Linked DNA regions of Homo sapiens: region 1 is linked to region 2. Evidence: fine-mapped expression QTL. A gene starts in region 2. The other region holds a variant in brackets. All regions are shown on one strand. Distances are between the middles of the regions.

The links. PIP is the estimated chance that this variant, and not a neighbour inherited with it, causes the effect. A credible set is the group of variants that fine-mapping cannot tell apart.
Region 1: its variant is the best candidate, but not a certain one, in a credible set for the expression of PRDX2 in monocytes (Fairfax 2014, PIP 0.89).

The regions. Positions count from the first base shown.
Region 1 is chr19:12,859,938-12,876,350 of GRCh38, reverse strand. MAST1 (microtubule associated serine/threonine kinase 1) reads right to left here. Exons shown (of 26, transcript NM_014975.3): 13 at 11,404-11,542; 14 at 11,173-11,305; 15 at 10,870-11,035; 16 at 10,533-10,634; 17 at 10,249-10,371; 18 at 9,589-9,698; 19 at 8,699-8,877; 20 at 8,374-8,621; 21 at 7,502-7,708; 22 at 7,056-7,285; 23 at 5,405-5,527; 24 at 5,179-5,315; 25 at 2,840-3,027; 26 at 1,399-2,742. The coding sequence ends at 1,481. DNASE2 (deoxyribonuclease 2, lysosomal) reads left to right here. Exons shown (of 6, transcript NM_001375.3): 6 at 1-1,142. The coding sequence ends at 361. Among named protein-coding and RNA genes, the nearest start is that of DNASE2, 13 kb to the left of the region's middle. RefSeq lists enhancers at 8,482-8,776, 9,998-10,785, 10,786-11,574 and a cis regulatory region at 8,420-9,200. The variant G/TG (reference allele first, on the strand shown) is at 5,688.
Region 2 is chr19:12,795,194-12,806,078 of GRCh38, reverse strand. PRDX2 (peroxiredoxin 2) reads left to right here and starts at 4,279. Exons shown (of 6, transcript NM_005809.6): 1 at 4,279-4,339; 2 at 4,809-4,920; 3 at 5,010-5,163; 4 at 5,780-5,902; 5 at 6,090-6,220; 6 at 8,913-9,256. The coding sequence starts at 4,818. The coding sequence ends at 8,998. THSD8 (thrombospondin type 1 domain containing 8) reads right to left here and starts at 4,010. Exons shown (of 2, transcript NM_001386800.1): 1 at 3,860-4,010; 2 at 1,690-1,975. The coding sequence starts at 4,007. The coding sequence ends at 1,776. RefSeq lists cis regulatory regions at 1-248, 3,919-4,468, silencers at 3,932-4,321, 4,331-4,516 and enhancers at 4,116-4,674, 5,002-5,201, 9,451-9,860.

The sequences.
Region 1 (16,413 bases), 68 kb before region 2:
CTGGTTGGCAGCAGCCCTTGGTACCAACCTGCAGGTCCAGTTCTGGCACAAAACTGTAGGCATCCTGCCCTCTAACTGCTCGGATATCTGGCAGGTTCTGAATGTGAACCAGATAGCTTTCCCTGGACCAGCCGGCCCAAGCTTCAACAGCACAGAGGACCACTCCAAATGGTGCGTGTCCCCAAAAGGGCCCTGGACCTGCGTGGGTGACATGAATCGGAACCAGGGAGAGGAGCAACGGGGTGGGGGCACACTGTGTGCCCAGCTGCCAGCCCTCTGGAAAGCCTTCCAGCCGCTGGTGAAGAACTACCAGCCCTGTAATGGCATGGCCAGGAAGCCCAGCAGAGCTTATAAGATCTAACCCTTATGGCCAGGTGCAGTGGCTCACGTATGTAATCCCAGCACTTTGGGAAGCCAAGGAGGGAGGATCACTTGAACTCAGGAATTCGAGACCAGCCTGGGCTACATAGTGAGACCACATCTCTACTAGAACTTAAAAAAAGTTAGCCAGGCACGGTGATAAATGCCTGTAGTCCCAGCCACTGAAGCCAGAGGATCGATTGAACCAGGGAGATCATGGTCACAGTGAACTATGATTACGCCAACCTGGGTCACATAGCAAGACTCTGTTTCAAAAAAAAAGGGGGGGCGGGGGACGGGTGGGTGCAGTGGCTCACATCTGTAACCCCAGCACTTTGGGAGGCTGAGATGGGCAGATCACTTGAGGTCAGGAGTTCGAGACCAGCCTGGCCAACATGGTGAAACCCCATATCCATTAAAAATATTTAAAAATTAGCCAGACATGGTGGCACGCGTCTGTGGTCCTAGCTCCTCGGGAGGCTGAGGCAGGAGAATCGCTTGAACTCGGGAGGCAGAGGTTGTCATGAGCTGAGCTAACACCACGGCACTTCAGCCTGGGTGACAGAATGAGACTCTGTGTCAAAAAAATAAAAAATAAAAAATCTAAGGGCTCAGGAACCAGTTTGGACTTGATTTTGAATCCCAGTTCATCCCCTTCCTAGCTGTATGACCTTGATTGTGTGCCTTAACCGCTCTGTGACACAGTCTACCTGTCTGCAAAATGGGAAACATAATACCTGCCATCAGGATTGTTGAGGAGTAAATAAATGGAAATTGGTGGACGAGGCTGTTAACCTTCTCTTCAGGTGGGCGCTGGGACACAAGAGCATCGCAGCTTCAATTCTCCCCCTAAAGGTTTGGGGGCAGTTGGTGCAGAGGTGAGACCAGAAGTGGGACCACAGGAGGTGTCTATCCAAAATTCCCTCCACTCTCCATGGTAACCAGAACTGGAGTCCCACCTCCCAAAAAGCACCTGGGCATGGGGGTGGGGTCGTGTGATGTCTCGCCTTGCCTGGAGAGGAGTGAGCCCCAGAAAACTCACGCAGCACGGACGCACTTTATTTATATGTGTACATATGTATACGGAGGCTGTACAGCGCGGGGCCGATGACCCCCTTGGCTATGGTCCCGGGGGTGCGGGACTGGACACTCCTTTTTTGGTCAGGCCTGCTGGGGGCACAGCTTCAGCAGGGCACCGGGAGGTCAGCCCCACTTGAGGCTTGGTGCCTGAGCCCAAGAGGGATGCGGGTGGGACTGGGGTCACTGCACTGCTGGGTGCACTGCACTTCGCTGGGGCTAGGGAGGGTGTCTGGGGCTCCGGGGAGAGCTTTGGGGAGGCGGGCTTGGAGCGAGGACCGCTCAGCGTGGTGCGCTCCTCCACCACCTCCAACACCCAGCGCTCCCGGCCCCGGGGGGCCTCGGGCACGGAAGGCGCCAGGGGTGCGGGTTCCTGCAACCCCTTGGAGTCCGCGCCCAGAGGCTGAGGCACCACAGCCTTAGCCCCGGGCCGCGCAGGCTCTACGACAATGGGTACCAGGGGTGTGCCCGCCTCGCCAGAGCTGCTGCGCCGGCCTGTCTCGTGTTCCTGCACCGGGCTCAGCGCCGCCTTGGCCACAGCCCTGGCCATCCCGCCAGTGCCATCCTCCGTCTGCACGCTCTGATGCCGCGTGCAGCCGACGTCCCGCTCCAGGGTCCGGCCACCGGGGGTCGTCGCGCGGGGTGGGGTGCACGCCTCGGCGCCCCCCGGGGATTCCTTCTCCTTGCTCGACACTGGTGGCCTGGAGGCACCCTCGGGCAGCAACGGGTCCGCGCCCAGGCTCAAAGGTGACTCCTGTCGGCCCAGGCGGCGGACGGCGACCTGCCGGGGCGCGCCAAGGCCCTCGACTGGGGGCGTCTCACCGTCGGACTCGGCAAGGCTATGCAGCGCCAGCTCGCCATGGAAGTCCTTGCGGAAATCCGGGTGGCCCACCTCGAGGCTGTGTTTGCGCAGCGCGCCCTTCTTGTCCGCACTCAAAGAGGCTCCCAGCTTCTCGGCCGACTGCACGCGCTTGAGGAGCGGCGAGCGAGGGGGCTCGGCACTCTTGGGGCGCGGGCGCACGACGGGAGGCGATGAGTGCAGTTTGGCCGGGAAGCTCTGAGTAGTGTGCGAGCTGCCCACCGTGTGGCCCGGCAGTGGCGGCGGTGACGCCTGCGTGGGGGACGGCGTGTGTGCCAGCGGCGATAGAGGGATGTTGCCGGCCGACTTGCATCGCGCAGAGCGGTACTGGCGATGGAGCTTTGGCGACAGTCCGTGCAGCGTGCTGGGCCGAATGTGGTGCGACGCCGACGACGCAGGCGAGTTGGGCGTGCTCGAGGCTGGGGAGCTGCTCTGGGATGAGGCGCCTGCGGGAGACAGGAGGTGAAGCGAGTGAGTACAGCCCAAGCACCAGCCAGGCCACCCCGCGCTGCTCGGTCCCCGCGCAGGTGCAGGAGGTAATACCTAGGTAGGCGGAGTCAGGCGTGGAGCGGTAGCTGTGCGTGGGCGAGCGCGCCGGCAGCCCGTGCGTAGGCGAGCCCGGGAGACTATCGCTGGATGACAGCGAGCGGTTCAGCGACGACAGCGAGCGGCTAGTATGCAGCAGGTTCGACTGCTTCGTGATCTTCCGGAAGAGGGAGCTGCGCTTCTTGCTGCGGGACAGGGAGGGGGCCAAGCGTCCTTGACCTGGACGCCAGAGCTCAGGGCTCCTCCCATTTCACGGCCTCACAACGGTAACCACCCACCCCTTCTGGCCCTTCCCTCTCCAGCTACAACCCACCTATCAAGATAAAGAACTTCCTTTAGCTCAGTGCTGCTTGGCTCCTCCCACTTCAGTCCCCACCCACCCCCTTTGGCCACTCCTAGTCCAAGCTAGAAACAAGCATCCAAACAAAACCAACCTGTTCTGCCCCGCCCACCTCTCTAGCTCCTCCCTCTTCCACTACAATCCACCTATCAAGATAGAACTTCCTTTAGCTCCTCCTACTTCAGGCCCCGCCCAACTTTAGGCCACTCCCAATTCTGGCTACAAACACTCATCCAAACAAAACCATTTTTTTTTTTTTTTTTGAGACGAAGTTTCGCTCTTGTCGCCCAGGCTGGAGTGCAATGGCACGATCTCGGCTCACTGCAACCTCTACCTCCCGGGTTCAAGCGATTACCGTGCTTCAGCTTCGTGAGTAGCCTCCTGAGTAGGTGGGACTACAGGAGTGAGCCACCACTCCCAGCTAATTTTTGTATTTTTAGTAGAGATGGGGTTTCACCATGTTGGTCAGGCTGGTCTCAAACTCCTGACCTCAGGTGATCCACCCACCTCGGCCTCCCAAAGTGCTGGGATTACAGGTGTGAACCACCTCGCCCGGCCAAAAACAACCTCTTCTAGTCCTGCCCACCCCTCTAGTCCCTCCGTCTTTCACTACAACCCACCTATCAAGACAGAACTTCCCTTAACTCAGTGCTGCTTGGCTCCTCCCTCCTCCCACTTCAGGTCCTGCCCAACCTTTTGGCCACTCCCAGTCCAGGCTAGAAACACATCCAAACAAAACCAACTTGGTCCCACCTGCCTCTAGTCCCGCCTCTTCCACTACAACCCACCTATAAGAGTGGGAAGAAATGTACTTATCTCAACCCCGTCTGGCTCCTCTCACCCAAATCCCTGTACTTGTCTGGGCCAAACTCACTGATCAAAACAGAATACTAAAAACAAACAAACAAACAGAATACCCTTCTGGCCCCACCCACCTCCCACCTAGCTCCTCCTATCTATAAGGGAAAATAGGATTTCAGTTGGCTGAACCTTGCCTGGCATGCTCATTCCAGATAGACATTTCTTATTCTAGCCTTTCCCAGTTCTGTCTAAACACATCTAACAGGATAGGACCATCTCCTGGACCCCCTCCGTCTCTGGACATCTCCCTTTCCAGTTCACATCTCCTGGGCCTGCCTATATGTGCAAGACCCTCCTACAATGCTTTTCTCTGATCCTAGAAATTTGGCACAGCTTCCATTCTTGGCTCCTTCCACTTTTACAGCCCCTCTTTTTTTTTTTTTTTTTTTTTTTTGAAAGAGTCTAGCTCTGTTGTCACAGCTGGACTGCAGTGGTGAGATCATAGCTCACTGCAGCCTCGACCTCCCAGGCTCAAGCAATCCTCCCACTTCAGCCTCCGAGTAGCTGAGACCACAGGTGTGTGCCACCAAACCCAACTAGTTTTTTAAGTTTTTTGTAGAGATGGGGTCTCTCTATGTTGCCCCTAATCTTGACTCCTGGGCTCAAGTGATCCTTCTGCCTCAGCCTCCCAAAGTGCTGTGATTACAGGTGTGACTCATCCCAGCCCCTCTTTTTTTGTTTGTTTGTTTGTTTGTTTGTTTGAGATGGAGTCTCACTCTGTTGCCCAGGTTGGAGTGCAGTGGCACAATCTTGGCTCACTGCAACATCCACCTCCCGGGTTCAAGGGATTCTTCTGCCTCAGCTTCCTAAGTAGCTGGGACTGCAGGCGAGCGCCACCATGCCAGGCTAATTTTTGTATTTTTAGTAGAGATGGGGTTTCACCATATTGGCCAGGCTGGTCTCAAACTCCTGACCTCGTGATCTGCCCGCCTCGGCCTCCCAAAGTGCTGGGGTTACAGGCGTGAGCCACCGCGCCCAGCCCGCAGCCCCTCTTAATTGTCCTCTTCCCTTTGCTTGTTGGTCATTTGTTCCCGCCACCTTTCCCGTGCTCTTCCCTTCTCCATCCTCATCTGTGCCCCTCCCGCCTAAGTTCCACCCACTGCTCAAAGACCAGGCTGTTTACGGCTGTGCCCACCTCTCCTGGCCCTCCTTGGCGGAGGGTCGCTTGTTCCTCCGAGCCATTTTAGCCTTGTAGCTGCTGCGCCTTGCGGGACCAATGCGGATAGAGGTATTTTCGAAGGGCGTTGTGGTCACTGCTACCTTGTTGCCACTCTGGGGGAAGAATGCGGGAAAATGCTCTGCTAGGGGCTGCTCAGGCCTCCCCCACCCTCCGCCCAGGGTGCCTCCTTCCCTGCACTCACCTTAAGGATCAGCTCCACGACCTCAGGATGCACCATGCCATGCACAGGCTCCCCATTCACGTGGGTGATGAGGTCCCCAGCACAGAGTCCTGCCTCCTGGGCTGGGCCTCCTTCCTCCACATGCTGGGAAAAGAGCACCCCATAGGGACAGGGTTAGTGGGATTGGTAACAAGGAAAGCTCCTAAACTTATATGCAGGACACTTAGCTCTGCATGCATTAGAATCCTCATAACACCTTGTGAAATAGTTATTATTCCTCCCCCCACATTTTTTTTTTTTTTTT[G/TG]GACGGAGTCTCACTCTGTCACCCAGGCTGGAGTGCTGTGGCGCAATCCTGGCTCACTGCAACAACACCCGCCTCCCAGGTTCAAGCGATTCTCCTCCCTCAGCCTCCCAAGTAGCTGGGATTATAGGCATGCGCCACTACCTCCGGCTAATTTTTTTTTTTTTTTTTTTTGAGACGGAGTCTCTCGCTCTGTCACCCAGGCTGGAGTGCAGTGGCGCGATGTCGGCTCACTGCAAGCTCCGCCTCCCGGGTTCACGCGATTATCCTGTCTCAGCCTCCTGAGTAGCTGGGATTACAGGCATCTGCCACCACGCCTGGCTAATTTTTTTTGTATTTTTAGTAGAGATGGGGTTTCACCATGTTGGTCAGGCTGATCTCAAACTCCTAACCTCGTGATCCACCCACCTCGGCCTCCCAAAGTGCCGGGATTACAGGCGTGAGCCACCGCGCCTGGCCATTTTTTTTTTTTTTTTTTTTTTTTTTGAGATGGTGTCTTGCTCTGTCGCCCAGGCTAAAGTGCAGTGGCGCAATCTCGGCTCACTGCAAGCTCCGCCTCCCGGGTTCAAGCGATTCTCCTGCCTCAGCCTCCCAAGTAGCTGGGACTACAGGCGCCCACCACCATGCCCAGCTAATTTTTTGTATTTTTAGTAGAGAGGGGGTTTCACCATGTTAGCCAGGATGGTCTCGATCTCCTGACCTCATGATCCACCCTCCTCGGCCTCCCAAAGTGCCGGGATTACAGCCACCGCGCTCGGCCCAATTTTTGTATTTTTAATAGAGACAGGGTTTCACCATATTGGCCAGGCTAGTCTCAAACTCCTGACCTCCAGTGATCTGCCCACCTCAGCCTCCCAAAGTGCTGGGATTACAGGCCTGAGCCACTGCGCCTGGCCTATTCTCCCCATTTTGCAGATGAAGAAACAGTCTCGGCCAGGCACCGTGGCTCACGCCTGTAATCCCAGCAGTTTGAGAGGCCGAGGTGGGTGAATCACGAGGTCAAGAGATTGAGACCATCCTAGCCAACATGGTGAAACCCCGTCTCTACTAAAAATACAAAAATTAGCTGGGCGTGGTGGCGCGCGCCTGTCTGTAGTCCCAGCTACTCAGAAGGTTGAGGCAGGAGAATGGCTTGAACTCAGGAGGCAGAGGTTGCAGTGAGCCGAGATCCTGCCACTGCACTCCGGCCTGGCGACACAGTGAGTCTCCGCCTAAAATAAAAAAGTAAAAGAAAAAAGAAACAGGTTTAGAGAGGGAAGAGGCATAGAGGGTCACAGAGGTGTCTCACCCAGGCTAACTGGTTTGAGCTGGAGGGGCCTTTTCCCCACCACCCTCCACTCTGTGATGGAGACTCCACCCATGAGTACTCACCCAGACAATGTGGTGGACACTATAGACATCCGTGTCACCCATGTAGACACGGATGGCACGCAGTGTGAAGCCATACTTCTTGCCCGAGCGCTGGATGGTGATGGGGGAGCGGAGCCCACTGACAGCTGGTGAGTAGTCCCGGCTGGGTGAGGAGTCCCGTGAGGATGGGTTGGAGGACAGAGATCGTGGAGACATGGGACTAGCAAGGGGTGAACTTCCATGTGGGTCCACTACAGACACACAACCATGGTCAGAAATCAGAACCAAGAAGATAGACATCTCCCTGTATCTGCTCCTCCCTCCTCCCAAGGCAGTGGCAGAGCAGCCTCTCATTGGTCCAGCCTGGAGCCAATCACGGTGGACAGGGAAAATGCAGCATTTTCATTGGTCTGTCCTGCCTCAAATGGGGGGCAGCCCCTCCCCTGCCAGGTGGGGCCCAGCATTACCTGCAGGAATCATGACAGATAAGGCAGTGGCTGAGGCTGATTTGATGACTTTGCCCCCAGTTCGAGAAGGCCTCTTCTCTACTGCCACATCCCCTGACATCTGCTGGTGCCGCGCCCGGCGCAGAACCAAGTCATTGGTAGCCCTTGGGCCTGATGCATCCCCATCCTTCGAGGGTGGGCAGAGGTCACCTGGGCGTGGACGGTCAGCTGCAACAGAAAGCAAGTGTGTTAGGAATTAGTCCAAGGCCAGGGATTTCCCACATACTGTTTCCCTGCCTGGAATGCTCTTTCCACTTTTTACCCTTGATGGATGGTGAGTTTCATCTGAGCAGGTAACCTGCATGCCTCACTGCTCCTCATATAGAGACATAGTCTGTATCGGTCTGTATCACTGACTGACCATGGTATTGGGGTGTTTCTAATGTTAAGAATCCCAAATTGGGCTGGGTGTGGTGGCTCACGACTGTAACCCCAGCACTTTGGTAGGCCAAGGAAGGCAGATCACTTGAGGTCAGGAGTTCGAGACCAGCCTTGCCAACATGAAGAAACCCTGTCTCTACTAAAAATACAAAAATTAGCCGGGGGTAGTGGCGCGCGCCTGTAATCCCAGCTACTCGGGAGGCTGAGGTGCGAGAACCACTTGAACTTGGGAGGTGGAGGTTGCAGTGAGCCGAGATCACGCCACTGCACTCCATCCTGGGTGATGGAGTGAGACTCTGTCTCAAAAAAAAAAAAAAAAAAAAAAATCCCAAATTGCAATGTGAATAGGACCTGAGATCTTTCATAAACAGCACCAGGCTCGTGGGATGCTCACTATATGACCAGTAGGACATTGGGGAAGATTGGGGAAGGCAGCACGATAGGGCACTCACTGGCCTCGGAGTCCCCGGCGCTGGAGGTGCCTTCCCCTTGAGTCTCCTCTTTGGGGGCCCGTGCATCCAGGGATCCCGCGGGGTCGGAGCTGGGCCGGGGAGGCCTGCGCAGCCGGGCCTCATCCTCGTCCTCTTGGGGGGCGCTGAAGCGGCTGGGCTCCAGCAGCGCCGAGAAACGGCGGCGGGCGCCCAAAGGGGGACTGGCCTCTCCCTCCAGGAAACTGGCCTCGGACGCGGAGAATCGCTTGCTGCATGGAGGGGGCGTGGTTATGGAAGACACGCCCCCTTCGACCCCGCCCCCAAACTCCGCCATTCCCCTGCTCACATCTCCGGAGAGCCCCCTCTCCAGGTCTTCTCACGCAGGGTCAGGCCGCCCAGCCCCTCCCGCTTGCCGGCCACCTTCTCCTCGGGGCCCTTGGTGCTCGGCTCCCGCTTGCTGCTCCCTGCAGCTGCTACTGGGGTCTTGGGCTCGTGCTGCGACAGCTGCTCCATGCTGCTATACACCTGTAGGTGGTGGTGGGAGGCAAGTCCAGCCCGGGTTCCACTTTCACTCCGGAGCTAATCAGCTTCCTGGCAGTGGATCCCCCGCAAAACGCACTCCACCCTCCGAGGCCTGGCTCCGCCCAATTGTGCATGATCCCCCAACCTACAATTCTTCAGTTCAGGCCCCACACCACAAAGTTAGGCACTGCGTTTTATTCTAGGCTCTGCCCCGACGATGCCCTGACCAATCTGCTCTCTACACAGCCCCATCTTCCCAGCAACCCCCTTAATTTATGTCTCCTTAGCCCAGGCTAGGCCCTGCACGCCTCTACAAGTTGCTTCTCAAAGCAAGGCCTATGGCTTCTCTGCCCGTTATTAGAAAAAATAAAAATAAATAAATAAAAGCAAGACTTCGCTGGGCTTTACTCCGCCTTCGCTGCTGGCCTCATTCCCACGTCCTGACCCCGCCCCACCCACACCTAGCCCCGCCCCACCATGGCCTCAATCTGCACAACTGTCCTGATTCCTGTTAGATTCCACTCAGTGCCAAAGGCCCGTCCCATAGACTCCCGAACCTGCCTCTTGCGTGGCCTTACCACCTTCCAGACTCCCGCCCCATCAATAACTTCCCGCTCCTGAGACCTTGGGCACCAGGGAACCTGTTTCTCACTGTCTCTCCAAGCCCCATCCCTCCTGGGGTCTCGCCCTGTCCCACACCCAGACTTGGCCCACCTTGCTGAAGCGCGGAGAGCAGGAAGAGAACTGGCGGATTTCCACGGGCTCCTCCTCCGTCGTGTCATCCTCGTCATAGGAGTTCACGTGGTGATACCTGTCTGAGCGGGCTGGGGAGCGGGTATGGGCTGTGACTGAGGGTACGGGGTTCCTCCTCATATCACATCCCCACAGGAGCCCAGTCCTGGTTCAAGACGGGTTTACAAGTCTTCAGGTCAGGCCACGCCCCTGCCTCATTAGTGTATTTAATTTAGGCTCCGCTCCCAGGCAAGGTCCTTGCCCCATTCTCAGTGGCACCGTCTAGCCCCGCCTCCAAAGAGGCCACGCTCCACCTACAGTGCTCTGCACCCTGGCATCACCCCAGGCCATTCTGAGCGCTAGTACCTCTCTCTAGTTCAGTTCCAGGCCCACACTCACAACTCACCCAGGCCAGGCCCCACACCTAGCCCAATCTCAGGTTCTTACCTACATTTCAGCCTGAGCCCCGCCTGTATGTCAGCCCCGCCCCACTTGGCCCCGCCCCCACCAAAATACCACCTTCGCACCTAGGCATCACATCTTGGTACTTAGCCAGGCCCTATCCCAGGCTTTACTTACCCCAGGGTCCCTCTTCCCGGATCCCACCCCTCGACCCAGGTCGTGCCTGGTGTCCCAGCTCACTGTCAAAGTAGCTAGTGTCATCTTCCGACTCTAGGTGGGGGATGAACTCGGCCTTCTGCCTCAGCAGCCCTGTCCAGTCCAGGTCTCGAAAGAAACTGTGCTGCTTCACCTCAAAAGCGCCGCCTGGGACGGAAGGGATTCCAGCCACAGCTGATGGCCAACCCAGCAGCCCAGCCCCGCCCCCCATGTCTTCCGCCCCGGGGCCACAGCACAGGCTGGGCCTGGGGTTTTGGAGGCCTGCTCTCTATCAGTGGGCCCTCAGCTCCTCTGCATGGCGGACTTACCTGCCCCAAGCCTGACCAGAGGGTTGGTCTGCAGGAGGCTGGATATGAGGAGTTGGGCCTCCGTAGGTAGGGCCTCATCCCCCTCGGGCCACAGGATGTCATCTGCAAAACAAAACGGAACTTAGGGGCGGTTTTTGTTGTTGTTGTTGTTTGGACACAGGATCTCACTGTGTCACCCAGCTGGAGTGCAGTGGCACGATCATGGCTCACTGCAGCCTTGACCTCCTGAGTGCAAGCGATCCTCTGGGGGGTCGCTTTTGAAATCCCTGGAACCCTGAGCCTGTCCATCTCTCCGTGCACACCACACTCTGCCCCTGTACACTGCCAAGCCACGTACCACTGATGACCTGTCCAAATAGCTCCTCTGGTGTGTCTCCGAAGAAGGGCACACAGCCCACCAGGAACTCGTAGAGGATGATCCCCATAGCCCACCAGTCCACTGGCTTGCCGTAGCCTTGACGCAGGATGACCTCGGGCGCGATGTACTCTGGGGTCCCACACACCTGGGGGCAGGCTGTCAGCCCACGCCCCAGCCAGAGGAGGGCCCTCAAGGGAGAGCTGTGCCCCCCACCAGGCCCTGGGTTCCCGAGGTCCTGCAGGGTCACTCCACCCTCAGCGACCCCCATGCCCGCACACACACCTGTTTGTCCAGGAACTCTCGGGCGTCCTTCTCGATGTGGCCTTCATATAAGTTGGTGGTGAGGCTCATGAGCCCCATCTTGGAGAGGCCGAAATCTGTGAGCTTGATGTGACCCATGGAGGTGATAAGGAGGCTGTAGGCACAGGTGGGGATCTCAGGGATGAGGCCCGTCCATTCTGCCTCCTGGCCTCCCGAGGGACAGAGGGAGTGATGGGAAAGATCAAAGCTCACTTGTCAGGCTTGAGGTCGCGGTGCACGATGCCATAGTTGTGCAAATACTCCAGGGCTAGCACCGTCTCAGCAAAGTACATGCGGGCCATCTCTACGGGCAGCGCTCCAATATTCTTCAGCAGGGTGGCACAGTCGCCGCCTGCAGGCCAGGAAATGGGCCCGCATAAAAAGGGAGGCATTCCTCTCTCTGGACATGCACCATAGCACCAACTTCTCATGTTATGTTGTACCCGTTTTATAGATAAGGGAAACTGAGGCTCTGAGAGGGGCCTCCCTCCCTCCAGGTCCTCTACTGGGTTCTTCTTGTCCTCTTAGCCATCCTCCAAAGTTGGTGTCATCAGCTCATCTTATACACAAAGGGATGGAGACTCAAAGAAAGGATGGGTCATGCAGGCAGTTGTTGGTAGAGGTGAGGTTTAGTTGGGGAACAAAGGCTACCCACTTATCAACTGCATCTGGAAGCACAGCCCTCTATCTCCTGGTGTCTGAACCTTGGAGCTGGAAGCCTTAGATGCAGATTCTTGGTCTTCACTAGATTTTTTTTTTTTTTTTTTGAGACAGGGTCTTACTCCATTGCCCAGTCTAGAGTGCGGTGGCAAGATCACAGCTCACTGCATCCTCAACCTCCCAGCTCAAGCAATCCTCCTGCTTCAGCCTCCTGAGTAGCTGGGACTACAGATGTGAGCCACCATGCCCAGCTGATTTTTAAAAAATTGTTCAAGGCTGGGCATGGTAGCTCACGCCTGAAATCCCAGCACTTTGGGAAGCCAAGGCGGGTGGATCACTTGAGGTCAGGAGTTCGAGACCAGCCTGGTCAACATGGTGAAACCCCATCTCTGAAAAAAGAATACTAAAGTTAGCCTGGCTTGTTGGCAGACGGCTGTAATCCCAGCTACTCGGGAGGCTAAGGCAGAAGAATGGCTTGAACCTGGGAGGCAGAGGTTGCAGAGATCCAAGATCGCACCACTGCAGTCCAGCCTGGGTGACAGAGCAAGACTCCGTCTCAAAAAAAAAAAAAAAAAAGTTTTTTGTAGAAACGAGTTTCATTGTGTTGCCCAAGCTGGTCTCCAACTCTTGGGTTCAAAGGATCCTCCTGCCTCAGCTTCCCAAAGTGTTGGCCACTGCCTCTGCCCCTCTGCCAGATTTACTGTAATTGGCATTGGTATTTCAGTTTCTCAATATCTATTTCCTTTTTATCCTACAAAGGCTAGATTTCCTTCCATGTGCAGCAACCGGGGCAGTATGTAACCCAAGTTGCTCCAGTGAGTTAGCCCTTGGAATTTTCACTCTTTTCCTGTAAGAATTGCTAAGCTCATAGAATGTAAGCTGAGATCTGCTAGATGGCAACCTTGCTACATGAGGGCTTGTCTAGAAGGAAGCCCACATGTGGGAGTACAGAGCCAAGAGATGGAGAGTTTCCTGATGGAATGGTTTGAGCACCTACATCCAGCCATTCCTGAAGGTAATATTGGTTTTTCAATCACCAATGACCAAGAAAGCTAATGATTTCTTTCTTTTTTCTGTTCTCTTTTCTGCGAGATTTTGCTGGTTTCAGAAACTCTCTGAGGGTGGGGCCCAGGAATCTGCATTTGAGCACATCTATTGTGCACACAGACCCACCATAGAGATACTGATTTGGCCCCCTTCTCTCCTCCTCCTCTGCAATGAACCTGGACTAGAGCAGTCATCTACCTCCTAGTCTCCTGATTCTGCTCTCTCCACAAGAGCCAAATGGATTATCTTTTCTTAATTTTTTTCTTTTTCTCTTTTTTTTTTTTTTTTTTTTTTTGAGTCAGAGTCTGGCTCTGTCACCCAGGCTAGAGTGCAGTGGCTCCATCTCGGCTCACTGCAACCTCTGCCCACTCACCGCCCCCGGGTTCAAGAGATTCTTGTTCCTCAGCCTCCCGAGTAGCTGGGATGATAGGCGTGCACCGCCACTCCTGGCTAATTTTTGTAATTTTAGTAGAAACAGGGTTTCATTGGCCGGGCACAGTGGCTCACGCCTGTAATCCCAACACTTTGGGAAGCCGAGGCAGGCACATCACCTGAGGTTGGGAGTTCGAGACCAGCCTGGCTGACATGGAGAAACCCCATCTCTACTAAAAATACAAAAATAGCCAGGTGTGGTGGTGCATACCTATAATTCCAGCTACTCAAGAAGCTGAGGCAGGAGAATCGCTTGAACCCGGGAGGAGGAGGTTGCGGTGAGCCAAGATCACGTCATTGCACTCTAGCCTGGGCAACGAGTTTAGCCAGAGCGAAACTCTGTCTCAAAAAAAAAAAAAAAAAGGAAAAGAAAAAAACAACAACAACAGGGTTTCACCATGCTGGGTAGGTTGATCTTGGACTCTTGACCACAAGTGTTCTGCCTGCCTTGGTCTCCCACTGTAAGTGCTGGGATTACAGTCGTAAGCTACTATAATGGGCCTCCAAATGGATTTTCTTAAAACATAAATCTGATCATATCAAATCTTCTTAAAACCCTCCATTAGCTGGACATGGTGGTGCCTGCCTGTAGTTTCAGCTACTTTTGGAGGCTGAGGTGGGAGGATTGCTTGAGCCCAGGAGTTCAAGGCTGCAGTAAGCTGTGATCACACCACTGCACTCCAGCCTGGACAATGCACTAAAAATAAAACAAAACAAGGCTGGGCGCAGTGATTCACGCCTGTAATCCCCATACTTCGGGAGGCCGAGACTGATGGATCATTTAAGGCTAGGAATTCGAGACCAGCCTGGCCAACATGGTGAAAATCCGTCTCTACTAAAAGTACAAAAATTTGCCAGATGTGGTGGCACACGCCTGTAATCCTAGCTACTCGGGAGACTGAGGCAGGAGAATCACTTGAACCTTGGAGACGGAGGCTGCAGTAATCCGAGATCACCCCATTGCACTCTAGCCTGGGTGACAGCGTGAGTGAGACTCCATTTCAAAAAAAAAAAAAAAAAAAGGCAGGCACGGTGGCTCACTCCTGTAATCCCAGCACTTTGGGAGGCCGAGGCAGACAGATCATGAGGTGTGGAGTTTGAGACCAGCCTGACCAACATGATGAAACCCCATCTCTACTAAAAATACAGAAATTAGGTGGGCGTGGTGGCGGGCACCTGTAATCCCAGCTACTCAGGAGGTTGAGGCAGGAGAATCGCTTGAACCCGGGAGGCGGAGGTTGCAGTGAGCCGAGGATGCGCCACTGCACTCCAGCCTGGGCAACAGAACGAGACTCTATCTCAAAAAAGAAAGAAAGAAAGAAAGAAAGAAAGAAAGAAAGAGAGAAAAAGAAAAAGAAAAAAACAACAATGCTCCAGTGACCTTCTGTTGCATTCAGAATGAAATCCAATGCCATTCCAGTCTCTGGAATACCCTCCTCATCAGCGCCCCTTCATCCTCATCTCCCCTCCCTTGCTCACTTGCCTTCGGCTCCATGGGCCTGCTTGCCACTCCTCCAAATCTAAATTGTCACCTAAGAGACTTTGTACTAGCAGGTCACTTATTCCATCATAATCCAGGCCTCTGAGAAGCTCCCTGCCTGCCTCCCCATCACCTCCTCCAGCCTCATGGACCTCATGTCCTCACTATGAAATGCCCTGGCTGGGCATGGTGGCTCATGCCTGTAATCCCAGCACTTTGGGAGGCCAAGGTGGGCTGATCACCTGAGGTCAGGAGTTCAAGACCAGCCTGGCCAACCTGGTGAAACCCCTGTCTCTACTAAAAATACAAAAATCAGCTGGGCATGGTGGAGGCGCGCCTTTAGTCCCAGCTACTCAGGAGGCTGAGGCATGAGAATCCTTGAGCCTGGGAGATGGAGGTTGCTGTGCACCAAGATTGCGCCACGGCACTCCAGCCTGGGTGAAAGAGCGAGACTCCATAAATAAATAAATAAATAAATGTCCTTATCTCTTTGGCTTGCTCTGCTTGTTTATTGTCTGTCTATACAGACCAGAATGGAATCTCCATGGCGGGGAGATGTCTGTGCCTGGGTCTCCTCTGTGTCACTGGCACCTAGCACAGCATGTGACACGAGGGAGATGATGAGGAGGTGTTCGTTGAGTGACTGGATGGTTGACTGGAAGGCTTGGAGGAGGCACAGCTGAGGCCCCAGGGATCATGTATGTGTCATAATAGCCACAGCATGTGTGGTTTTGGACAATAGATGGATTAACATTTGGGTGAATACATGCACGGATGGATTAAAAACAATATATGGGCCGCAAGCTATGGCTCACGCCTGTAATCCCAGCACTTTGGGAGGCTGAGGTGGGAGGATCACCTGAGGTCAGGAGTTCGAGACCAGCCTGGCCAACATGGTGAAAACCCTATTTCTACTAAAAATACAAAAAATTAGCCAGGTGTGGTGGCACACACCTGTAATCCCAGCTACTCGGGAGGCTCAGGCAGGAGAATCACTTGAACCTGGAAGGTGGAGGTTACAGTGAGCCGAGATAGCGCCACTGCATTCGAGCCTGGTGACAGAGCAAGACTCTGTCTCAAAAAAAAAAAAAAAAAGAAAGAAAGAAAAAGGAAAAATAGGTGTATAAGCCGGGTGTGGTGGTTCACGCCTGTAATCACAGCACTTTGGGAGGCCGAGGTGGGCGGATCATGAGGTCAAGAGATCGAGACCATCCTGGCCAACACGGTGAAACCCCGTCTCTACTAAAAATACAAAAAAAATTAGTCGGGCATGGTGGCGGGCACCTGTAATCCCAGCTACTCAGGAGGCTGAGGCAGGAGAATGGTGTGAACCTAGGAGGTGGAGCTTGCAGTGAGCTGAGATTGCGCCACTGCACTCCAGCCTGGGAGACAGAGCAAGACGCCGTCCCCCCCAAAAAAAAGAAAAATAGGTGTATAATGGTAAACAGACATACGGATGGATAAACAGATGGACAACCACAAAGACAAATTGCGGGATGTGAGGGATGGATGGAAAGGTGGATTAATAAACAGGTATATGGGATGGGCTCGGTGGCTCGTGCCTGTAATCCCAGGACTTTGGAAGGCTGAGGCAGGACGGTTGC
Region 2 (10,885 bases):
CTGTGCTTCCTAACCTCTGTCTCATTCAGGCCAAGCCTTCCCCACCCCCGTTGGAGATCACAGACCTCGGTGGACTCCTGCTCAGGGTCTCTGCTCCCTATAGAAGCTCATTCCTCCCAACTTAGAATGAATGTCCCCACCCCCACCCCTCGACCCACTTTTTTTTTTTCTTTTTTTTTTTTTTGAGACAGAGTCTCGCTCTTGTCGCCCAGGCTGGAGTGCAATGGCGCCATCTCCGCTCACTGCAAGCTCCGCGTCCCGGGTTCACGCCATTCTCCTGCCTCAGTCTCCCGAATAGCTGGGACTACAGGCGCCCGCCACCACACCCGGCTAATTTTTTGTACTTTTTAGTAGAGATGGGGTTTCACCGTGTTAGCCAGGTTGGTCTCGATTTCCTGACCTTGTGATCCGCCCGCCTCGGCCTCCCAAAGTGTTGGGATTGCAGGCGTGAGCCACCGCACCCGGCCTTCTTTTTTTTTTAGACAGGGTCTCTCTCTGTTGTCCAGGCTGGAGTGCAGTGGCGCGATCTTGGCTCACTGCAACCTCCACCTCCTGGGCTGACGCGATCCTCCCACCTCAGTCTCCCAAGCAGCTGGACTACAGGTGCACACCACACCACCATGCCCGACTATTTTTGGTATTTTTTGTAGAGACGGGGTCTCATTATGTTGCCCAGGCTGGCTTCAAACTCCTGGGCTCAAGCGATCCGGTCGCCTCAGCCTCCCAAAGTGTTGGGATTACAAGCCTGAGCCAGCCACAGTGCCTGGCATCCACCACTTCTATTCCCTGGGCTCACTGGGGCTCATGTCCTCTGCCTGTGGGTTCCCGCCCCTTACCAGGCTCATGCCCCTTCCTCAGGGTCCTAGTTCATTGTCTCTTTATCTCCTTTTACTCCTCTTCGCCTCCCCCTCCACTTTTTTTTTTTTTTTTTTTTTTTTTTTTTTTTTGAGACAGGATGTTACTCTGTTGCCCAGGCTGGATAGCAGTGTAGCGATCTCGGCTTATTGTAACCTTTGCCTCCCAGGCTCAAGCGATCCTTCCTCCCCATCGTACCGAGTAGCTGGGACCACAGGCATGTGCCGCCACGCTCATCTAACTTAAATGTTTTTGTTTGTTTGTTTGTTTGGTTGGTTTTTTTTGAGACAGAGTCTCGCTCTGTCGCCCAGGCTGGAGTGCAGTGGCGCGATCTCGGCTCACTGCAGGCTCCGCCTCCCGGGTTCATGCCATTCTCCTGCCTCAGCCTCCCGAGTAGCTGGGACTACAGGCGCCCGCCACCGCGCCCAGCTAATTTTTTATATTTTTAGTAGAGACGGGGTTTCACCGTTTTAGCCAGGATGGTCTCGATCTCCTGACCTTGTGATCCGCCTGCCTTGGCCTCCCAAAGTGCTGGGATTGCGGGCGTGAGCCACCGCGCCCGGCCTAATTTTAAAAATTTTTATGGAGAGGTGATCTCAACGATATTGCCCAGACTAATCTTGAACTCCAGGACTCAAGAGATCCGCCTGCCTCGGCCTCCCAAAATGCTGGAATTACAGGCGTGAGCCCCGGCGCCCGGCGCCCCCTCCACTTTTCTCCTTTTCTCCCTAGATATCAGCGGGGCTCACGGCTCCTGACTCAGCTTCCCCCTAACCAAATCAGCCTCAAGTCACTCAAGACTTGGAGCCCCAGTTCTCCCTTCCTCAAACTCGCTTCATACCCGCCCCGCACCGCACATCCTCCCTCCGCGCCCACCCTGGGCCCCGCAACTTGCCCCGGCCCTGCTCTCTCACCCGGGCTCAGAGCCTCCAGTCGCAGTCGAAGGGCTTGCAGGATGGACAATCCCGTTGCCGGCAGGGCCGTAACTGGATCAGCTTCTCCGGGTCCATGAAAACCGGGCCCGGCGCTGTGCCCACTACCTCGCGGCTGCGCTCCTGCTTGCCCAGGTCGCAGAGACACCGCCACTTTCCCCACGGGCCAAGGATTGAGTCCTCGACTTCTAGAGAAGGAGGGCAGAGGTGAAGACCTACGTGGAGGGGGCCTACTCCCAATCCCCTCCCCCAGAGAGGGAGAAAGATAAAGATACTAACGAATAAGAGAAGCACATATTCGCTAGACTCTGCTTCTATGCCAGACACCCTGCCACAGATTATCTCATTTAAGCTTTTTTTTTTTTTTTTTTTTTTTTTTTGAGACAGGGTCTCGCTCTGTCGCCCAGGCTGGAGTGCAGTGGCGCAGTCACAGCTCACTGCAGCCTCAACCTCCTGGGCTCAAGCAATCCTCCTACCTCGGCCTACCAAGTAGCTGGGACTACAGGCACATGCCACTGTGCCTGGCTAATTTTTTGTATTTTTTGCAGAGACGGTGTTTCACCATGTTGCCCAGGCTGGTCTGGAACTCCTGGGCTCAAGTGATACTCCCATCTCAGCCTCCCAAAGTGCTGGGATTACAGGTGTGAGCCAGCCACCATGCCTGGCCTCATTTAATATTTCCACGAGTCTCAGGTGGGGAAACCAAGACCCAGAGACAGCAAGCCAACCTTCCAAGCTCATATACGGGGTAAGTGGGCCAGAGGAACTACAACCTGACACTTCCAGGCTGTGCCAGCCTGCCCAGTTGTGAGTGTCCTACAACATCCTTGGTGCCCGCCATTTGAAGCTGACTTCTGTCTTCAGGGGTGTGACCATGGCCCTACCTAGAAGGCACAATGCCACCTGACAGCAGGGTTGTCAAGTGATAAATGGCATAATTGACATAATGAAGGTAAGTAAATCTCCCGGTGCTGTGCTAGCATATACAAACCAATTTATTATGATCAGTTTGTTTATTTATTTAATTTATTTATTTTGAGACAAGATCTTGCTCTGTTACCCAGGTTGGAATGCAAGGGCATAATCATGGCTCACTGCAGCTTCAAACTCCTTGGCACAAATGGTCCTCCTGTATCAGCCTCTTGAGTAGCTGGGACTACAGGCGCATGCCACCATGGCAGGCTAATTTATTTTTTATTTTTATTTATTTATTTATTTTTGTAGAGTAGGGGGTCTCTCCATGTTGCCCAGGCTGGTCTTGAATTCCTGGGCTCAAGCAGTCCTCCCGCCTCGGCCTCCCAAAGTGCTGGGCCATCAAGTCAGGCTAATTTTAAAATATTTTTTGTAGAGATGGAGTCTTGCTGTGTGGGCCAGGCTGGTCTGGTCTCCGAGACCAAGGGATCCTCCCACCTCAGCCTCCCAAAGTGCTAGGATTATAGGCGTGAGCTACCGCGCCGGCCACTGTGATCACTTTAAAGGGCTCTTTACTGAATCTGCCCCTTTCCCCTATGAGACAGATCTTATCCCAACTCCGATCTTATCCCAACTCACCGCTCACCAAGGTCTGACACCTCCTACCCTCCCACACCCATGTCTCTGCCACACCTCACCGACCTCTTTCCATTTCTCCTTCAGGACTTTTCACCTTGGCATTTGCTATTCCCTCTTCCTTGGACATTCTTTCCCCAAATCTTTCCATATGGGACTTTCGCTTGTCGTTCTCGCTGCACTGGTCACGGGTCTTCTGCAATCGGACCCTCTCTGATTTCCCAAGCTTGCCCGCCCCCTTCTTTCTCTGTCTCTGCCCTTCCTGGCACCTATCCCCGAGTGACAGCTTCAGTGTCCTGCCCACACCCTCTCTTCCCCTGGGAGCTGCTTTAAAGCAGTATCTATTTCAATATATCCAAGAGTAAACCGAGCCTTAGAGAAAAGTAACCAGCCCAAGGGGACGCCTCCAGTGCGGAGCTGGGTGGAGATTTGCAGCCCGCCGAGGAAGGTCCCTTTGCAGCCAGCAGGAGAAGTAGGGCAACGGGGAGCCTTTGGGCATCGTCATCCCCGCCGCCTGAGGTTACCCTTTAGATGCTGCAGCCTCAGCTGCTCCCAGCTGTCACCTTCGCCCTGCTGCCCTAAGTACTGATAGTCCTGGTAGACCAGGGCAGGGGTCGCCAGCTGCAGGAGTAGCAGAGGCGCCAGCAGCAGCGCCCCCGGGGTCCGCGCCATGCTGGACTCCAACGGCCCCCAACGCGCTCCCAGGCGGAGTCGTGCGCGGAGTCTGCGGCGGGCGCATTACCCACGCGGGCAGGTGCAGTGGTCCCGGCCGAAGGCAACGCGTCTCCCCCCGCCGCCCGCAGGCGCATGGACCCGGCCGCACGCTCCCCCGCACCTGCGGGCGCAGTGGACCCGACCGCTCCGCTCGTCCGCTCCCTCCCCCGCGCCGTGCACGTCTTGGTTCGGGCCGGGCATAAAAGGCTTCGCGGCCCAGGGCTCACTTGGCGCTGAGAACGCGGGTCCACGCGTGTGATCGTCCGTGCGTCTAGCCTTTGCCCACGCAGGTATGAACACCCGGAGTGCACCTGGCGGGAGGACCCCCTTCAGGCTGCTTTGGCCCGATCCTGACTTTAGTGCTGGCCGCCTTTGCTTTCCATCCGCTATAGTGGCCTCCTTTGTCCTTGCGGGGGAAACCGAGGCCACAGCCTTGCAGCGCAGGCCTGATCGCCCGACTTCCCGCCCCCTGCTCGTGCGGGCCTCACTGTCTCCTTCTGGGCTGGGGGCTTGCGACACCGCCCTCCGGCCGACTCGCTCGTGGGGTGCTGGTGGCAGTGGCTGGGTCACTCGTGCTCTGGTCAGGAGAGCGGGTCTCCGGCAGCCTCCGGGCCTCGTAGACCGGGTACCCGGGAGGGTGAGGGTTAGTGCTGTCGCCTCCGCCGTGCTGACTCAGTCATAGGGCCCAGCACGCAGCGCGACCTTGGGTTGGGAGGACAAAGTGTCTTCCCGGGCGCACTGACCGGGCGGGGGTCTCAGCTTTCAGTCATGGCCTCCGGTAACGCGCGCATCGGAAAGCCAGCCCCTGACTTCAAGGCCACAGCGGTGGTTGATGGCGCCTTCAAAGAGGTGAAGCTGTCGGACTACAAAGGTGAGCGCCGCCCGGAGGGGGCCCAGGTAGAAGCGGGGCCGTGCATGAGAGAAGCTGGGCCCTAACTCCTCTGTGTCCCTCCTCCCCAGGGAAGTACGTGGTCCTCTTTTTCTACCCTCTGGACTTCACTTTTGTGTGCCCCACCGAGATCATCGCGTTCAGCAACCGTGCAGAGGACTTCCGCAAGCTGGGCTGTGAAGTGCTGGGCGTCTCGGTGGACTCTCAGTTCACCCACCTGGCTTGGTATGAGCAGGGGCCAAAGAGGGAGGTTGCAGCTAAGCTCACACCCTCAGGTCCTAGCAGTGTGGCTTCGTGGCCATTGCTCAACCTCTGGAACCTGCGTTTCCCCATCGTGAAAATAATGGAAACATTGCCGCCCAAGTCTTTAAGGATGATGACAGTAATTAGCATTTGACAACTAGTTGCCTGGTATATAGAGTTGCAGATGCAACTCAGATGCAACTCTATCTACTCTATGTACTTAGTTCCCAGGAGGGAGGCTGTGCTGCCCTATTTCATGAAGATGGAAACTCCAGTTCACCGAAGTGAAGGGCTGTACCCCATGACACAGCTAGAGGAGGATGGGGACTCTTAACACAGGCTCTCTGCTGGGTGATGCTGCAAGTTACAAGTACATGTGAAGCCACTTAGCTGGAGCTGTGCCTCTCAAACTCAGTCTTCCCAGCCATGGGGATACAGTCCTTGCACCCAACCCAGGGTGGGGTGGGTGAGGCTCCCAGCGGCCTACTCTAAAGCCCCTTATCTCCGGCCTCCAGTGCTTATCACATTGGGCCCACAGGGTGAGGACCCTGCTGTGCCAGGCATCCTGAGGCCCCAACTCTGTCTCCCCTACTCCCAGGATCAACACCCCCCGGAAAGAGGGAGGCTTGGGCCCCCTGAACATCCCCCTGCTTGCTGACGTGACCAGACGCTTGTCTGAGGATTACGGCGTGCTGAAAACAGATGAGGGCATTGCCTACAGGTACTGTGGGACCCTCAGCCCGGCTCAGGGAGCGCCCTGCCCCCCATTCCTGTGATGCTGGGACCACTCCTGTACAATGTCTTCTCTGCCCCCAGCCCTGTGGCTAGCAGCGGGTGGTTGGTAGTCCCTTCCTTGTCTCTGGCAGTGGGAGCTATCAGCTCCTCACTGGGAACCCTGATGTCTTCAGGGGCCTCTTTATCATCGATGGCAAGGGTGTCCTTCGCCAGATCACTGTTAATGATTTGCCTGTGGGACGCTCCGTGGATGAGGCTCTGCGGCTGGTCCAGGCCTTCCAGTACACAGACGAGCATGGGGAAGGTGAGCAGATACACACATGACACATGGGTACATACTGAGCGCCTCCGTCACTCATGCAAACATTCACTGCCTGTCCTCTTACCTGTCCAGATGGGTGTTAGGGCCCCAAAGAAGATTCAGCTCAGGGCTTTGTCTGCAGGATGTTTCTAATGTGGTAGGAGACAAATAACGCCTGACATTCAACCAAGGTGGACAAAGGGGCCGGGCTCAGTGGCTCACGGTTGTATTGCCAGCACTTTGGGAAGCTGTGGCAGGTGGATCACCTGAGGTCAGGAGTTCGAGACCAGCCTGACCAACATGGTGAAACCCCGTCTCTACGAAGAACACAAAAAATTAGCTGGCCGTGGTGGTGCACACTTGTAATCCCAGCTACTTGAGAGACTGAGGCAGGAGTTCGCTTGAACCCAGGAGGCAGAGGTTGCAGTGAGCTGAGATCGCACCGTTGTACTCCAGCTTGGGCAACAGAGCAAAACTCAGTCTCAAAAAAAAAAAAAATTAGCTTGGTTTGTGAAGCATGCCTATAGTCCCAGCTACTCAAGAGGCTGAGGCTGGAGGATCACTTGAGCCTGGGAGGTCAAGGCTGCAGTAAGCTGTGATCGCACCACTGCACTCCAGCCTGGGTGACACAGCAAGACCCTGTCTCAAAAAAACAAACAAACAGGCCGAGCGCGGTGGCTCACGCCTGTAATCCCAGCACTTTGGGAGGCCGAGGCGGGCAGATCATGAGGTCAGGAGTTTGAGACCAGCCTGGCCAACATAGTGAAACCGCGTCTCTGCTAAAAATACAAAAAAATTAGCTGGGTGCGGTGGCAGGTGCCTGTAATCCCAGCTACTTGGGAGGCTGAGGCAGGAGACTCCCTTGAACCCGGGAGGAGGTTGCAGTAAGCCGAGATCACACCACTGCACTCCAGCCTGGGCGCCAGTGTGAGACTCCATCTCAAAAACAACAACAACAAAAAAACCTGTAGGGGTGGGGCAGAGGGACAAAGATGGGACTAAAGGAGCCAAAAAGACAGGAAGATGCTGTGTCTCATGCCTGTAGATGCTGTGTCTCATGCCTGTAGTTCCACCTACTCTGGAGAGTGAGGCAGAAGATTGCTTAGGCCCAGGAATTTGAGTCGAGCCTAGGCAACATAGCAATACCCCATCTCTTTTTTTTTTTTTTTAAGAGATGGGGTATTGGTTAAAAAAAAAAAAAAAAAAAAAGAGGCCAGATGCAGTGGCTCACACCTGTAATCCCAGCATTTTGGGAGGCCTAGGTGGGTGGATCACCTGAGGTCGGGAGTTCGAGACAAGCTTGACCGACATGGAGAAACCCAGTCTCTACTAAAAATACAAAATTAGCCCAGCCTGGTGGTGCATGCCTGTAATCCCAGCTACTTGGGAGGCTGAGGCAAGAGAATCGTTTGAAGCTGAGAGGCGGAGGTTGCAGTGAGCTGAGATCGTGCCATTGCACTCCAGCCTGGGCAACGAGTGAAGCGAAACTCCGTCTCAAAAAATAAAAAAAAAAAAGAGGCCGGGCACGGTGGCTCATGCCTGTAATCCCACCACTTTGGGAGGCTGAGGCGGGCGGATCAAGAGGTCAGGAGATCGAGACCATCCTAGCTAACGCGGTGAAACCCTGTCTCTACTAAAAATACAAAAAAATTAGTCGGGCGTGGTGGCGGGCGCCTGTAGTCCCAGCTACTCTGGCGGCTGAGGTAGGAGAATGGCGTGAACCTGGGAGGCGGAGCTTGCAGTGAGCAGAGATCGTGCCACTGCACTCCAGCCTGGGCAACAGAGCAAGACTCCATCTTAAAAAAAAAGAAAAGAAAAAAAGAAGAAAAAGGAGAGCTGGGTGGCAAAAAGAAATTGAAGAATTAAGAGTAGGAAAAACACCAGCTAGAAAATACTGAACTTGGCCAGGTGTAGTGGCTCACGCCTGTAATCCTAGCATTTTGGGAGGCCAAGGTGGGTGGATCACCTGAAGTCAGGAGTTCGAGATCAGCCTGACCAATATGGTGAAACCCTGTCTCTGCTAAAAGTACCAAAAAATTAGCAGGGTGTGGTGGCGGGCACTTGTAGTCCCAGCTACTCAGGAGGCTAAGGCAGGAGAATCACTTGAACGCGGGAGGCAGAGGTTGCAATGAGCCGAGATCACGCCATTGCACTCCAGCCTGGGCAACAGAGGAGGACTCTGTCTCAAAAAAAAAAAAAAAAAAAGAAAGAAAGAAAAAAGAAGAAAAGAAAAAGAGAAAATACTGAACTTGGCTAGGCATGGTGGCTCACACCTGTAATCCCAGCACTTTGGGAGGCCAAGACGGGCAGATGACTTGAGGTCAGGAGTTCGAGACAAGCGTGACTAACATGGTCTCTACCAAAAATACAAAAATTAGCCAGGCGTGGTGGTGCACCTCTGTAATTCCAGCTAGGGAGTCTGGGGCATGAGAATCGCTTGAACCCAGGAGGGAGAGGTTGCATGAGCTCAGATCATGCTACTGTACTTCAGCCTGGGCAACAGAGCAAGACTCTGTCTGAAAAAAAAAAAAAAGAAAAAATACTGAACTGGGCTTGGAGGGTTTATCTTAATATCCACATTCCTGGGCCTGGACCACTTGCTTCCAGCATTTTCTTCTGCAACACAGGCCCTTGCTTTGCTTCACCTTGAACCTGGGGCTGTAGCCTTCATGTGCATCCTTGTGTCTTCCCACAGTTTGTCCCGCTGGCTGGAAGCCTGGCAGTGACACGATTAAGCCCAACGTGGATGACAGCAAGGAATATTTCTCCAAACACAATTAGGCTGGCTAACGGATAGTGAGCTTGTGCCCCTGCCTAGGTGCCTGTGCTGGGTGTCCACCTGTGCCCCCACCTGGGTGCCCTATGCTGACCCAGGAAAGGCCAGACCTGCCCCTCCAAACTCCACAGTATGGGACCCTGGAGGGCTAGGCCAAGGCCTTCTCATGCCTCCACCTAGAAGCTGAATAGTGACGCCCTCCCCCAAGCCCACCCAGCCGCACACAGGCCTAGAGGTAACCAATAAAGTATTAGGGAAAGGTGTGAGTCTGTGTTGGTGTGCTCTGTCCTTTCGTCCTCCCCTGCAACCCCCTTCCTTCTTCAGGCTCAGGCTTGGGAAACTGACCCTGTGGTTGCTCATCTTCGCCACACGGTGGCGGTCTTATCACATGCTTAGTGCCTGCTCTTTTCCTGCTTGCGCTCAAGGCGGTTTCGGAGGGGTAGGGTATGCCGTTTGTCCCTTGCAAATCCCAGGATGCCCTACATCCAGAAATCTGGCCATGCAAGGCAAAGCCCACATTTTGTCACCAGCCAGCCTGGGTTCAAATGCCGTTTAAGAGCTGTGATCGTCTCTGGGTCTCTTCAGCAGTAAAATGGGACTGCAAACCCAGATCACCATGCACGTGGTAAAATTTGTAGGAGATAAGTTATGTGAAGCTCGGGGCTGAGGCCCCTGTGTAGGGCCCAGTTCCTAGTTCCTAAGACGGCTTCCTCGAGCTGAAAGGAACCCAGCCCAGTGTAGTCTTATGGGGAAGAGGGTGGGGACCCAGTCTTAAGAGCAGAACCAAGAATGAGAGCCTGAGCTACGTGCAGAGTGCAGAGTCCCTGCTGTGAGCTCTGCCCCACCCCAGGCTGGAAAGGTTGCCTGTCTGCCCCTGGGGTGGGAGGGTGGCAGTTAGGCTAGAAGGCAGGTATTAGCAGCAAGGCAGGGTTCCCAGGGGTGCAGTTTAATATTGTGTGCGTTCAGGAAAGTAGTTTTGCTACTCTATGCCCCAATTTCCTCCTACAGAACAGGGCTAATATGCTCATTTAATCCACAGATCCACTATTAATGCTGGTACCCACCTAATACCCTCTAAGGGTCACTCATCTCCCTTGGAATTTAATCTACACTCCTCCCCAAGGCCCCTGCTCAGTCTCCCTTGACATCTGCCCTGTTGTGGTTCACTCCATTCCAGACAGGCTGGCTTCCTGCTGTTCTTTCACAGGCTCACCTGGCTACATGAATTTTGCCATTTAAGAGCTGCTCCCAAGGCCGGGCGCAGTGGCTCACGCCTGTAATCCCAGCACTTTGGGAGGCCGAGACGGGCGGATCACGAGGTCAGGACATCGAGACCATCCTGGCTAATACAGTGAAACCCCCTCTCTACTAAAAATACAAAAAATTAGCCAGGCATGTTGGCAGGTGCCTGTAGTCCCAGCTACTTGGGAGGCTGAGGCAGGAGAATGGCGTGAACCCGGGAGGCAGAGCTTGCAGTGAGCCGAGATCGTGCCACTGCACTCTAGCCTGGGCAACAGAGCGAGACTCCGTCTCAAAAAAAAAAAAAAAAAAAGCTGCTCCCAGTTGAGCGGGGTGGCTCAGGCCTGTAATCCCAGCACTTTGGGAGGCCCAGGCAGGCGGATCACCTGAGGTCAGGGGTTCGAGACCAGCCTGGCCAACATGGTGAAACCCTGTTTCTACTAAAAATACAAAAATTAGCCTGGCATGGTGATGCACGCCTGTAGACCCAGCTACTTGGGAGGCCAAGCAGGAGAATCGCTTGAATCCTGTGGGTGGAGGTTGCGGTAAACTGAGATCGAGCCACTGCACTCCAGCCTGCCTGGGTGACAGAGGGAGACTCCATCTAAAAAACACAAACAAACAAACAAAAAACTGTTACCTCTGATGCTGTT